2 linked regions of the Homo sapiens genome follow. The protein of the gene in region 1 purifies or fractionates together with the protein of each later gene. This does not show direct contact. Each region holds a gene or a part of one and is shown in the gene's direction. Other genes may lie near its edges.

Evidence for each region.
Region 2: the proteins of AZIN2 (region 1) and TPD52L1 purify together in Homo sapiens (affinity purification with mass spectrometry; 2 studies listed by BioGRID and IntAct, with this or other methods). This does not show direct contact.

What each region holds. Positions count from the first base shown.
Region 1 is NC_000001.11:33,091,119-33,098,157, forward strand, and holds part of AZIN2 (antizyme inhibitor 2), read left to right. Parts: intron 1-931; coding exon 932-1,104; intron 1,105-2,126; exon of another isoform or gene 2,127-2,163; coding exon 2,164-2,298; intron 2,299-3,429; coding exon 3,430-3,595; intron 3,596-5,588; coding exon 5,589-5,751; coding exon of another isoform or gene 5,752-5,762; intron 5,763-6,888; coding exon of another isoform or gene 6,889-6,948; coding exon 6,949-7,039. UniProt on the Homo sapiens protein: Antizyme inhibitor (AZI) protein that positively regulates ornithine decarboxylase (ODC) activity and polyamine uptake.
Region 2 is NC_000006.12:125,226,755-125,233,793, forward strand, and holds part of TPD52L1 (tumor protein D53), read left to right. Parts: intron 1-2,363; coding exon 2,364-2,512; intron 2,513-7,039.

The sequences.
Region 1 (7,039 bases):
CGTATCTTGGCGATTGTGGATAATGCTGCACTGAACATGGGAGTGCAGATATCTCTTTTACATATTGACTTCCTTTCCTTTGGATGTATACCCAGTATTGGATTGCTGGATCATATGGTAGTTGGTAGTTCTATTTTTTGAGATGGAGTCTGGCTCTGTCACCCAGGCTAGAGTGCAGTGATGTGATCTCGGCTCACTCCAGCCTCCGCCTCCTGGGTTCAAGTGAGTCTCCTGCCTCAGCCTCCTGAGTAGCTGGAACTACAGGCATGTACTACCAAGCCTGGCTAATTTTTGTATTTTTGGTAGAGATGGGGTTTTGCCATGTTTCCCAGGCTGGTCTCAAGCTCCTGGCCTCAAGTGATCTGCCCACCTCAGCCTCCCAAAGTGTTGGGGTTACAGGCGTGAGCCACTGCGCCCTGTCCTATTTTCAGTTTTTTTTTTGAGGAACCTCCATACTGTTTTCCAAGTAATATTTAAACATTTAAATTTGCCAGGAAAATGTGTCAGAAGCCTGTTGTCAGGGCTACCATGAGTCCATATAATGCCTTTGTGTAAATTAGAAAATGTACCCTTTCCTTAAGACAATTAATTGTTATAATAAATATACTGATTTTCTTAGAATGAGATGCTTTACTGCCAGGAAGTTTTAATAAATATACAAATCTACTCTGTATTCATTCTGAATGGGAACTCCCCACCCCCAGGATTGTTCAGTGTACCACCCGCATGGCTGTACATGGCAGCCCTGCTTATCAAAGAATGGTGAATCCATGTAAGTCCTGATATCTATGTATCTGTTGTCTTAGAGCAAGGCCCACTGTTATGGGCCTCCCTATGCATAGCTATGACTTTGCCCTCATCTGTGCTTCCTTGGGCTCCGTGGGCTAGCAGGCCCTGGTGCCTCCTTACAACCACCTTTGGGGCCCCATAGGCAGAGATGGAGTTGGTCCAGCATATTGGAATCCCTGCCAGTAAGATCATCTGCGCCAACCCCTGTAAGCAAATTGCACAGATCAAATATGCTGCCAAGCATGGGATCCAGCTGCTGAGCTTTGACAATGAGATGGAGCTGGCAAAGGTGGTAAAGAGCCACCCCAGTGCCAAGTAAGCTGAGAACCACTCATGGGGAGGCTGGGCTGTGGGGAGCCTGGGCTGTGGGGAGCCTGGGCTGTGGGGAGGCTGGGCTGTGGGGAGGCTGGGCTGAGGGAAGGCTGGGCTTCAGAGTGAAGGGGGGGGTGGGGTGAGGGGGTGGAGCTGGGGCAGGTCACCCTGTCCTGGACCCAGCCACAGTTGCAGGAGGTTGGGGCAGGTACTCCTGGACTGAACCCAGGATGCTAGGGTCTAGCTAGAACAAAGGCAGAAATAACTGGTTAAAGCCCTAGGCAGAGTGAGACCCATGTGTTATGGAGGCCAAAGTCACAGGCTTGAGAGAGTCGAGGGAGTGGTCAGGAAGGCTCCACGGAGGAAGTGGCATTTGAAGCAGGCCTTGAGGAATGAATAGAATTTGGAGGGGGCATAAATAGTGAACTGCGTAAGCAAATGCATTGAGGTTGGAAACAGCATGGGACATTCAAGCGTAAGCAGAAACTTAGTGTGGCTGACGCATGCTATGTGTAGGGGGTGAAGGAGATCCTGGTCGGGGGCGGGGAGCCGATGCAAATGGACTTTCGAAGGGGTCAGGGCTGGACGTTTTGCTCTGGCTGTGCCTTTTACATGATTACTGGACACCCTTGGACTTCCCAGGAGGGGCCTTGGGGTGAAGGGGGTGGCCAGGTGATGGGCCACTCCAGTCCATCCAAAGCAGCTTCCATCGTATTAATGGGTTCTCCTTAAGGCTTTGTTTAAAAATGGTTCCTCTCATACACGACAAGTTTGAAAGCTCTAACTGGTGTGGAGACTGATTTGGAGGGACTGGAGCTGCCCCAGGAGAGTTGGTGAGGTCTGGACCAGGGCGCAGGGGCTGCAGGAATGGGTCAGGGACATTTAGAGAATGGATTGGACAGGACTTGAAGGTTGATTGGCTGTGTAGGGAGAGGGAGGGGTCAGGGAGCCTGTGGGGTTGGGTGGCTCTGAGCCATGTAGCTCACAGCCCTTGATTGAGAGATGTGGCTGGGGTGGGGCGACAGGGTTTGTCCAGCAGAGGGGCACTGCGTGTCTCATCAGGATGGTTCTGTGCATTGCTACCGATGACTCCCACTCCCTGAGCTGCCTGAGCCTAAAGTTTGGAGTGTCACTGAAATCCTGCAGACACCTGCTTGAAAATGCGAAGAAGCACCATGTGGAGGTGGTGGGTGTGAGGTGAGCACTGGGAACCCCTGCCATCCCCTCCCACACCAGGCTCCCTGCCTCTTTCCCAGGAATTAATTCTATATGAGACCTTCCCCAGGGCCTCTGAGTAGGGCCTGTCCCTGGGCCTGGAATTCTTCCATTTGAGAATTTCCTCTGTTTGAAAAGGAAGTTTAGAAGGGTCCCTTCCCCAGTCCCAGGGTCCCCAGAAGGTCTTGTCCCAGGAAGTTCCATCCAGAGACCTGGCTTTGAGGGAGTCTTACCAGCCTGTAGGACAAAGGTTTTGCAGCTACACTCTTGAGGGGCCTCTTTTCTTTTCTTTCTTTCTTTTTTTTTTTTTTTTTGAGATAGGGTCTCACTCTGTCACCTAGGCTGGAGTGCAGTGGCATGATCATGGTTTTCTGCAGCCTTGAGCTCCCAGGCTCAAGCAATTCTCTCTCCCGCCTCAGCCTCCCAAGTAGCTGTGACCACAGGCGTGCATTACCACACCTGACTAATTTTTATTTGTTGTAGAGATGGGGTCTCACTTTATTGCTCAAGCTGGTCTCAAAGTCTTGGGCTCAAGCAATCCTTTTGCCTTGGCCTCCCAAAGTGCTGGGATTACAGGTGTGAGCCACTGCACCCAGCTGTGTGCCTCTTTTCTTACAGGGATATGGAAGGAGTAATAATGAACTACCTAATGAACAATGAACTACCTAATATAGGGCTTCATTTATTCTGTACTTAGGTGTGCCAGGTGCTGTGCTAAGTGCTTCATGCACATTCTCTCAGCCTTGTGTGGTGTGGGTCTTGTCCCCGCATTATAGGTGGGGAAACTAAAACAAAGCTGAGTAAGCTGCCAAGGCCACCCTGCTGACTGGGAGGCACAGCCAGATCTGGTTGACTTGGGGGTCCTGGCTCTCATCCCAGAAGGAGGGATGGGAGGAGCACCAAGTGCCAGGAGCCCTTGGATCAAGCCTCCTGTCCACTTCTCCCTTGCCATATGGCCCTTGGCAACCCATTGAACATTTCAGGACCTTGGTCACTGCATCTGTAAAATGGGCACAGTGTCTCATGTGCCTGCCCAATGTCATTCTTGGCTGGGGCTCAGGTGGTGGCACTTGGAGCCCTGCATGTCAGCCGAGGCTCTTCCTCTCTTCCCAGTTTTCACATTGGCAGTGGCTGTCCTGACCCTCAGGCCTATGCTCAGTCCATCGCAGACGCCCGGCTCGTGTTTGAAATGGGCACCGAGCTGGGTCACAAGATGCACGTTCTGGACCTTGGTGGTGGCTTCCCTGGCACAGAAGGGGCCAAAGTGAGATTTGAAGAGGTAACCCTGGAGCTGGGAGTGTCATGCTGGGCTCTATGGCGGGGAGGATAGGGAGGGATTAGATGATCGGAGGGAGACCACCGTGCGTGGGTCCTATGCACTGCATGCAGTGCTTGGTGCTTACCTGGGTGATCTCACTGCTTATTAACCCTGTGCTACAGCTGAGCAAGCCAAGGCTCACAGAGGTTACATTGCTTCCTGAGCCCAAAGCAGAACCTGGTTCTGCCTGCCATGCACTTCAGCCAATTGGAGGCATAACCAGGACACATTTACATAAGTCGTAAGGCTCTTTAAGGGGCGGGATAGGCCTCTTCACCCTAAGGTGGGCTGATGAGATATCGGGTGGGGAGGCAGGGAAACGAAAACCAACCTTTGGTCTGCTGCCTGTCCATTCTCTTCCTCTATTCCCTTTTCCTTACCCACTGTGAGGTGAAGTTAAGAAAAATGTGTCCTAGCAGTTCCCACTCCAACCACTAGAGGTCGCCTCTTCTTGGAAGGCGCCTCCTTCGGGAATACCGACATGTAGGAATTGACCTTACAGAAATGATTTGGGATAGTCTCAAAGAATTTGCCTCAAAGATGACTGTTCTAGCTTTGTTCCTAACAGAAGTCCAGTGGACTTCCCTGGTCCATCTAATACTCAGGATTTGTTAAATTATGGTACATCCTTTTGATGAAAACACTTCCTTAATGTGGGGAGGTCGTTCACAGTCTATTAAGTAAAACAGGTTCCAAAAACATATACAGAGACCTACCATGGTTATAATAAAAAATAGCGTTTGTATAAAAAATAATTAAAGACACTACTCCAAAAAGTTAACAATAATTAGATTCATCTAGTTGATAGACTTTGGAGTGACTTTTATCTTCTTTTTCCTTTTCTGTATTTTCTGAATTTTCTGTAATCAAGTATATTACAGTTGACCTTTGAACAACGCAGAGCTTAGGAGCACCGACCCCCTACACACTACAAAATCTGCATATAACTTTTGATTCCCCTAAAACTTAGCTACTATAGCCTACTGTTGACAAGAAGCCTTGCTGATAACATAAACAGCCGATTAACAGATATTTTATGTGTGATATGTATTATATACTGTATTCTTACAATAAAGTAAGCTAGAGGAAATAATTTTTTTTTTGAGACAGAGTCTCACTCTATCACCCAGGCGTGAGTGCAGTGGCACAATCTTGGCTCACTGCAACCTCCGTCTCCTGGGTTCAAGAGATTCTCGTGTCTCAGCCTCCCAAGTAGCTAGGATTACAGGTGCAAGCCACCATGCTCAGCTATTTTTTGTATTTTTAGTAGAGACGGGGTTTCACCATGTTGGCCAGGCTGGTCTCGAATTCCTGACCTCAAGTGATCTGCCCACTTCAGCCTCCCAAAGTTCTGGGATTACAGGCATGAGCCACCATGCCTGGCCAGAAATAAAATATTATTAAGAAAATTATAAGGAAGGGAAAATGTATTTACTATTCATTAAGTGGAAGTGGATCATCATAAAGGTCTTTGTCCTCATTGTCTTCAAGTTGAGAAAGCTGTGGAGGAGGAGCAGGAAGAGGAGGGCTTGGTCTTGCTGTCTCAGGGTGGCAGAGGCAGAAGAAAATCCATGCATAAGTGGACCCACACGGTTCAAACCTGTGTTGTTTAAGGGTCAACTGTATTTAACAAACTGGTTATTTATGAAAGAAAGATCCACATCAGGGCTTCTGGAATCTGAGTACCAAGTGTGATATGAAGAGGACTCCTTCCCATTGTGGGGCCATGGAGGAGGGTGATTTACACAAGCACGAGGCTCTCTACCCAGCTCTGTCCCCCTCCTACCTTCTTGGCCAGCTGTCCACAGTTATCAGCTGGGGCCTTAGCAGCTGCCAAATCCTTCTTCCGGAAATCAAAGCAGCTTTCAAGAAATAGACTTGGAGCTGTAGCAAGTCTTCAGCATAAAGCCCACATTTCAAACACATAATTGTCTCCCCATTCTCCTCCTACCAGATTGCTTCCGTGATCAACTCAGCCTTGGACCTGTACTTCCCAGAGGGCTGTGGCGTGGACATCTTTGCTGAGCTGGGGCGCTACTACGTGACCTCGGCCTTCACTGTGGCAGTCAGCATCATTGCCAAGAAGGAGGTTCTGCTAGACCAGCCTGGCAGGGAGGGTAGGTGCCAGGTGGGCAGTGGAGCCCTGTTCTCCCCTGAAGCTTCAGATAGTGGTTGGCTGAGCAGGATCTGGTTTTAGACCCAGTGGCAGAGGATGGGGGAATCTGGAGAATGAATGGGTTCTTGCTTTAGGGAAACTTTCAGTCAAGTCGCCCCACCCCAAGACATTTATTTAGCATCTTTTTTCCTAGGCATGTTCATATTTTGTGAAGATTGAGAGCAAAACAACCTTAGAGAGAATAGATACTCTGTTGACCCCATTTTACAGATGAGGAAACCGAGAACCAAAGAGAATACAAGTGAACTGCTTAATAGCTAGTAAGAGCCTGCATTTGACCCCATGTCTGTCTCCTCTCCAAAATACAGGCTCCTACTCACCCTACTGCTTCTCATAATATAATGAAAATAATTAATGACAGCTTACATTTGTTTGAGTCCACTTTACAGATGACAACATAGGCAGGGGGAGGCTGAGTCATTAGCCCAAGGTCACATGGCTGATAAGGGGCAGTGTGGGGATTCAAGTTCAGGTTAGGCTGACTCAGCGCTTCTGGGCCCACATCACCAACATCAGTGCTCTTCCCTCCCCTTCCAGATAGGTCAGGGATAGCAGCCTGTGAGTGACAGGTGTCAGGGACTCTGATCTTGAGGCTTGCCCTCTGCTCTGGGACCCTCATGCAGGGGAGCCTCAGGACTGTGCGCTTTTCCCCAGAGAGAATTCATGTGAAGGGTGGTGGGCTCCAGGTAGAATGTCCTGTGTTCGTGTGTGGCATTCTTCTGGCTTCCTTTATAGACCTGGGGGATTGTCCCGTCTGATCCAATCAAGAGACCTGGCTTCTCATTCTGGCTCATCCACTGCCCTATCATGTGCCTCTGAGCAAGTGGCTTAACCTTTTGGGGTCTTGAGTTTGGGTGGGCTGCTCTTCTGCCTTTGCTGGGGCACCTAGGGGCTCAGATGCAAGCAGGGGAGTGCATCCTGGGCAGGTTGCTTGGCTGCAGGGGTGAGTGTTCCTAACACGGCAGTGAACCCATGTCATTGGAAGGATGGCTGCTGATGGCTTTTGTTGTAGGCCTCGCCTCATGGTTGAGGAATGGGTAGCCATTTTGCTTCCTTACTGAGCCCACTGTTGTGTCAGCCCCACTACCACCCCCTCACATTGCTACTTGTGCTGCCTCTGAACCCTCCCCTCCTGCAGAGGAAAATGGTTCCACCTCCAAGACCATCGTGTACCACCTTGATGAGGGCGTGTATGGGATCTTCAACTCAGTCCTGTTTGACAACATCTG
Region 2 (7,039 bases), on another chromosome or scaffold:
AAAGGCTGACATGAACCCCAAGCATTTTCTGTGGTAAAAGAGCAAGAGATACAACCATGAGAAATATTGGGCAGCAGATTAAATGGAGGAGGACACATTGACAAAGATGAAAAAGAGAAATATGACATGATAACAAAAGAATAGAAGGGCTTAATTTTAAAATAACAGTGTATTCTCATTTAATGGAGAGACTAAAAGCATTATTCTCTTTACTGGTCCCTAAACATACTCCTTTTACAGTAATCAGTGTATGTATGCACACTGAAGACTCTTGCTCATCAAGGAAAGACAGGGTTCTATTGATTATACTATGTTTGTAGAATATGTAATTCACTTTAGATTTTAGAAAGATGTCCATGTACATATAAAAAATGTTCTGTGAACATAAAGAAATGGATAATGTTAAATTGCCAGGACATTTTGCTGATATTAAAAACCCCAAGATATTGCTACTTCTTACTGTGGTATTTAAGATGCTTGTGATTCAGTATTTCTGCTTGTTTTGCTTACGTGATTATTTGTGTATATAAAGGTTCGCAAAACCATTTCTGTCTGTTCACTATTGGCGCTAGTGAAAGACTGGGGGGTTTTATTGCATGTTTTGCTTTTGCAAAGGCAGATGCCCTTCTTGAGCTGCTTTCCCAGGAGCTGTGACTCTGGTGATCCAAGGAACGCATTTGCAAGATGACTGACAGCCTGACAGGGTTGGTGTGATGCAGCTTGTGGTCCGAAGTAGAGTGACACTTTACAGTAAATGAGCCACAGTTGCTCCTTTTTAAAAAAAATTTAGTAAGAAATCCACTAAAGTGACAGAGTTTTATTACCTCCATGCATGTGGGATACTAAGGTAGTTCTAATGATTCTTTTCCGGCTTAACAAGGAAAAGTCACAAAATTTGTTTTCCATATTTCAGAAAACAAAGATGTAAATGTAAGCACTGATACCAGAGCAATATGTTATAGAGTATGACAACTAATTAAAATCAAAGACTTTGTGATTTATTCAGATTTATTTTCACAGGATAGAACAGCACTTTCCAAAATCTGAGTACTTTACAGAGCTCTTTTGTTAGAAATTGCATTTGCAAGAGCAATTTTATAGTGCTGAAGAGATCTGCTTTTCTGTAGCACAGGGGAAAGAGGAAATATGTCCATACGAAGCCTTGTACATGAATGTTCATAGCAGCTTTATTTGCATTAGCCTAACCTAAATGCCCTTCAACAGGCAAATAAACAACACACTTTGGCATATTCATTCAATAGAATACTACTCTGCAAAAAAAGGGGAAGAACCATTGATAATGCAGCAACATAGATGAATATAAAATAACTATCTGCAAAGCCAAGCAAAAATGAGTGTATACTCTATGATTCAATTTGTATAAAATTCTAGTAAATATCTGCAAACTAAACCCTAGGGAAAGAAAGTCAGTCAGTGGCTGTCTGGTGAGAGTGGATTGGGGGAAAGGAAAGAAGAGGGAGGGAGGAAGAAGAAGAAGCAAGTAAAAGGTGATGAATATGTTCACTTCCTTGATTGTGATAATGGCTTCACGGGTAGATACATATGTTAAAACTTACAAATTATACATATACACTTTAAATGTCTGCAGCTTATTGTATGACAGTTACAGGTCAATGAAACTGTTAAAAAGAAAAATCAACACAAATCACTCTTTTACATACATCCTCTAATCCCTTGTTCCTTCCTTTCTTAAGGCATTAGCTTGGCAAAACCCCATTGTCTGCCAATTCCATTCCTGCACCTATGCAACTGTGTGTGGTTGGCAAAAAATAAACTACACTGAGACCAGGCGTGGTGGCTCACGTCTGTAATCCCAACACTTTGGGAGGCCAAGACAGGAGAATCCCTTGAGGCCAAGAGTTTGAGACCAGCCTGGTCAACATAGTGAGACCCTGTCTCTTTAAAATAAATAAATAAAGTGGCACTTGAGAAGAAGTTATATAAAATAAGGGTACAGTAGAAAACCAATTTTTGTTCAAAAATTATGTCTATATACAACTTATAGAAAGAACATTTGGAAGTTTAGAAACCAAAAAATAAGCAGTGGCTATTTCCTAGCAGGATACAGGTGATTTTTATTTTCTTGTTTATGTTTTTCTGTACAATCTCACTTTTTTTTTTAACAAGCAGCATAAATTACTTCTATAATCATTAAAATGAAAAATTCTGTTTCTACTTTGAGATATTAGACTATCATCTGTATGGGGTGTATTTGGCAAACCTACACATGGGATTGTATAAATAGGAGGGTCAGAGGCTGCTTTGGAATACCCAGAGCTTCTGTAAGTATCCTTTTTTGCTGGTCTGACATTTTCCCCCACCATTTCCCCTCCGCCTTGTAGCTAGAAGACGAAATTACAACACTACGACAAGTTTTGTCAGCGAAAGAAAGGCATCTAGTTGAGATAAAACAAAAACTCGGCATGAACCTGATGAATGAATTAAAACAGAACTTCAGCAAAAGCTGGCATGACATGCAGACTACCACTGCGTAAGTATCATATGAACAGTGTTTTATTAACTCAGCCTGATGTCTCCTCACTCTGTTGTGTTTTGTTTCATTTTTCCTACAAGGCTGATTTGGTGCATGAAGCTAGGAAAAAAAAATACTTTCTCTAAAAGCAAAGCAAAGAAATGTGAATAATCATTAAGTATGCTGCATGTGAAGCAGATTCTATAAAGTAGCTTCATGAAATAAAACTCTGTTCACTGAAACTCTATTTTCACTCAGACTACTTTCATTAGGTTTTATTGTTTAAATGTTTTTCTCTTTATATTTTTAACATTTGTCAAATATACTTTTTTTAAAACTTTTTCTCATAAAAACTATAAATGGGAAGGTGTTTTCTCCTCAGCACACTTGACACTCACTATGTATGTCTTCCAAAAGTGGTTGGCAGTTTCAATACTGACTTGCTGGCAATTGATTTACAAAGAAAACCTTGTACTTTTCATCTTTTGTTTTGCACTTTTCATTCTCACTATTCTAGGGAATATTTAGAGCTGGGTTTAGACCAGTTTTAGAGCTTGGTTTAGATTACAGTTTTGGCCCTGTAATCCCAGCACTTTGGGAAGCTGAGGCGGGTGGATCACAAGGTCAGGAGATCAAGACCATCCTGGCTAACATGGTGAAACCTCGTCCCTACTAAAAAATACAAAAAATCAGCTGGGTGTGATGGCATGCCCCTGTAATCCCAGCTACTCGGGAGGCTGAGGCAGGGGAATTGCTTGAACCCAGGAGGCAGAGGTTGCAATGAGTCGAGATGGCGCCACTCCACTCCAGCCTGGCGACAGAGGGAGACTCTGTCTCAAAAAAAAGAAAGGAAGAAATGGTTTTTGCTTTGCCATTATCGTCCTGTCTTGTGCTAGGTAAGGTACAGAATAATCTCAGTTATTCTACAATCACACTTTTTTTATTAGATTATTCTTAAGTTGCATGAAATATTTAATGATGATGGTACTTTTCTAATGTTGCAAAGTATTTTACCTGCTGGGGGTCTTGTACCAAAGGGGAGTACTCCACATATGTGATGTGATTTTTCTTCTTTTTGTGTATTGGGGGTTAGGGGCTGATGAGGAAATCACAGAGGCTTTATCCCTAGCCGTAACTTTAGTCCCAAATTTCACCATTAAGAAATTGTCTTTGGGTTATGCATTTTCTTCTCTACTATCACACTTTGGAAGGTAAAGATATTGCATTCCTAATACCTAAGTGGGAGTCAATTTTTCTTTCTCCTAGGCATAGAAAGGCCTGATGGTAGGAAGAGGTACCAATAATTGACAGCAATTATTTCAGTTTTGCCAGCAGCCAAATTTGCCTGCTGGTTCCTAAGAACTAAGATGTAAGCCTTTTTGCTCCTATGAGAAGATGTCCTTTGTATGAGGAATTGGGTCTAAAACGAGCATGACATCTCCCCAACTTCCTTAGTTTCCATAAGAATGAGAATGTTTTTCTCCCTCTAAATATGGCCTAGCAGTCCTATTGGGCTCTATGCTTGTGCACCCTAAGGACTCAATCAGATAGGTTCAGGGCACAGCCCAGAGTCAGGCAGAATGTAGCCAGGGAGCTTGTCAGTTTATCTCCAGAAGTTAACCAACATTCCCCAACCTAATGATGACAATTACGGGAAAAAATAAGAAACCACACATTGATGTGCAGCAATTTAAAAGATAAGTTGCAACACCATATGAACAATCTCCTGAAAGGATAACTGGATTTTAGGCATTAAATTAAATGAGCTTATCTGTCAGTAGTTTTGGCCTCTGTCTTTCCACTTTCGTGGCCAATACCAATTAATGGCCCTGACAGTGTAAAGTTGAACAAGCTCTAATTCTCTGGGTTTGGTCACCTCTGTATTTAATCCAGGCCTGAGGGTTTCGTATAACACTGGTCTGAACTTCCCTGTGGGGTATAAGTACCAGGAAGACCTTCCTGCATGGCCTTCCTAATCACATTGCATAGGTAAACTAACCAAATGGAAGGTGGGGCAATGCTGGCAGTTTTGTTGCTGAAGGAGAGAGGTGCCTGGCAGGGAGGTGGGAATGTCTGAGCAGAGGGAGTGTCAAGTTTGTGCAAGGTCTGCCAGGGGAAGGGAGGGGAGAGACTCATATTCCTCCTGGGACTGGAAATAGAGCTGGCAAGTTCAAGGAAGGCTTCTAGCCTCTTCCCACAGGGGATAATGTCTAATTTGTGTTTTTCCATGTTTGAAAAACTAATAGGTTTTATAGCCAGGTAGTCTACTTAATGTAAAGCATTTTGCTGGATGAATAGCCTAGATTTATTCCCTGGGGTTATGGAGTTTAGAGTCTAGTTAGGAAGACAGAGTTTGAGTTTTTGTTGTTGTTGTTGTTGTTGTTGTTTGTTTGTTTGTTTATACGACAAAATCATGGACAAGGGGGATAGAAAGGATTTGGAGAACAGATCAACAGTGGTTTGCAGGTGGATGATGAAGGAAATAGGACCAAGTGTGATGTCTAGGCCTTTGACTTGGGCTACTGAGTGAGTGTTGGAACTGTTTACGAGCATTGTGGTTAGGCTCATGGTTGCTTGGGTTGAAATCTAGGCCTTGCTGCATTCATGAAGTGAGATCATCTTAATGCCGATCCCATAGGTAGTGAAGATTCAGTAAGTTAATGTTCGTAAAGGCTGCAGGACAGCATCTGACACTTTGTAGGCATGAAATGATTATTTGCTGCTGTGAGAAAGACTGAGAAACAAGTCTGGAGGAGAGGCACAATAATTCGTTTTGGCTCCGTAAAGTCTGAAATGCCCAATAGATAAACAGATTTATAGGCTGAGAGGACAACTCAGTGTAAAAGTTTAAGGCAGAGATGGACATTTGGGATTCAACTGCATATAGATAACATCGAAAACTAGATGACTAGATGAGATTTCCCTGGGGATTACTTAATAAATACAAATGGTCATGAACTCACTAACCTTTAGGAATGAAGTGAACTTTCCTTTGTAGGGAAGAACCAGTCCCTCTCTTTAGGAGGAGGCATAAGTCTATCAACCATATAATTTGGGGAAAGGGTCTGTCCCCAACCCTTTCTTCTTGGTTGTTGAGGGAAGGCAGCGGATCTTAATCATATGTTTGGAGGAGCGATAAAATCTGTATCCCTCTGAATTAATTAAACCCCTGCTCTTAGTGCTGTTTATGATACCCATTCCAGGACAAAATCTGCACCTCATCTGATGAAAAATTTGATGTGAAGAAATGATGAGCTATGATCAGGTTAGGTTAGGTAGAATTAGATTTCAAAGCACTAAAAAAAATTTTTAGCTGTCAGAGGATGTGTGTGATTCCCAGAGGCAATACTTTGCATACTGATTAAGCAATCATGACCTATTTAGTTTGATTTATAATGAAAAGAAAATCTATGGTATGTTAATGAAAGATCTTGGCATATTTCAGTCTGCAGTAGGATTCAAATTGAAATAGGCCTTGATAAGTAGGAATAATTACACAGCAGACTGAAATTACCTCCTTTACAGAAAGATTCCAGGAATACAGGAAAAGGTCAAGGGATCATCGGTATCCAGGGTTTCTTGTTGCTGTTGTTCTTGTCATAGTTTTTTACTTGCCTAGATTTGTATCTAAGAACATACAAAAAAGTCCTCTCCATTTTTTGGTTTTCTGCTGCCTTTTTATGTTGTCTTTAGACTTCAAGGAGACATGGGAGAGGTGGGTGACTTTGGGGTAAAGGAGGAGAAATTGAATCTCTTCTGTAGGCAGAAGTAGAATCAGGAAATACAACTTTATGGTGGGCTATTCAAAGCAGTGGGCTTCATGTATTCAACAAGTATTCTGCTTTGCTAACCCATGAAACATGAAATCCCCCCACTAATAAACCCCTCTGAATCGTGCCACAATCTAAATGGTAAGTCGACAGAGGGCAGAGGTTTTGGAAAGGAATTTAAACTATTCCATCTTTTTGAAAGCTTAATAATTTTATCCTACATAAAGAGGACGAAAAGCCTCACATTCAGCATTTTAAAAACGCACAGTGCTCAAAAATTGAACGTTAGTTTATGATTTATTTACTCTTTGATTTTGTTCTTCTAAGACTTCCAGGCCATTAATGGTCAGGAATTCTTATTATCTCTTTTTATGAGGGAGCCTGGTTGTAGCACTATTGAGTTCAGGAGTGCCAGTGAAGATTAAAGACCTAATTTTAAAAGATGTACACACCCAATCTCTCACATGGTTGTTCATTCTTTTTACCTTCAGGCTTTCATCTTATTACACAAGGCAGGAAGTAGATTCTTTTCTTCTAGATTCAAGTGGTAAATTTATGTTCTGATAACATATTTAGGGAGCCTTTGGAATAAAATAATCTTAAATGTTTTTTTGTATCTTTGGTGAAATGCTGCATATTCAACCATTAAAGGAACACTTTCTTTTAAATCTCATAAGAGGAAATATATTCGTGCTGTAAAATATCTTCTTCTAAAAAGATGAATTTTTTATTTCTTCTAGTTGTATGTAGAAAAATGCTTTATTTAAGTCAAAAC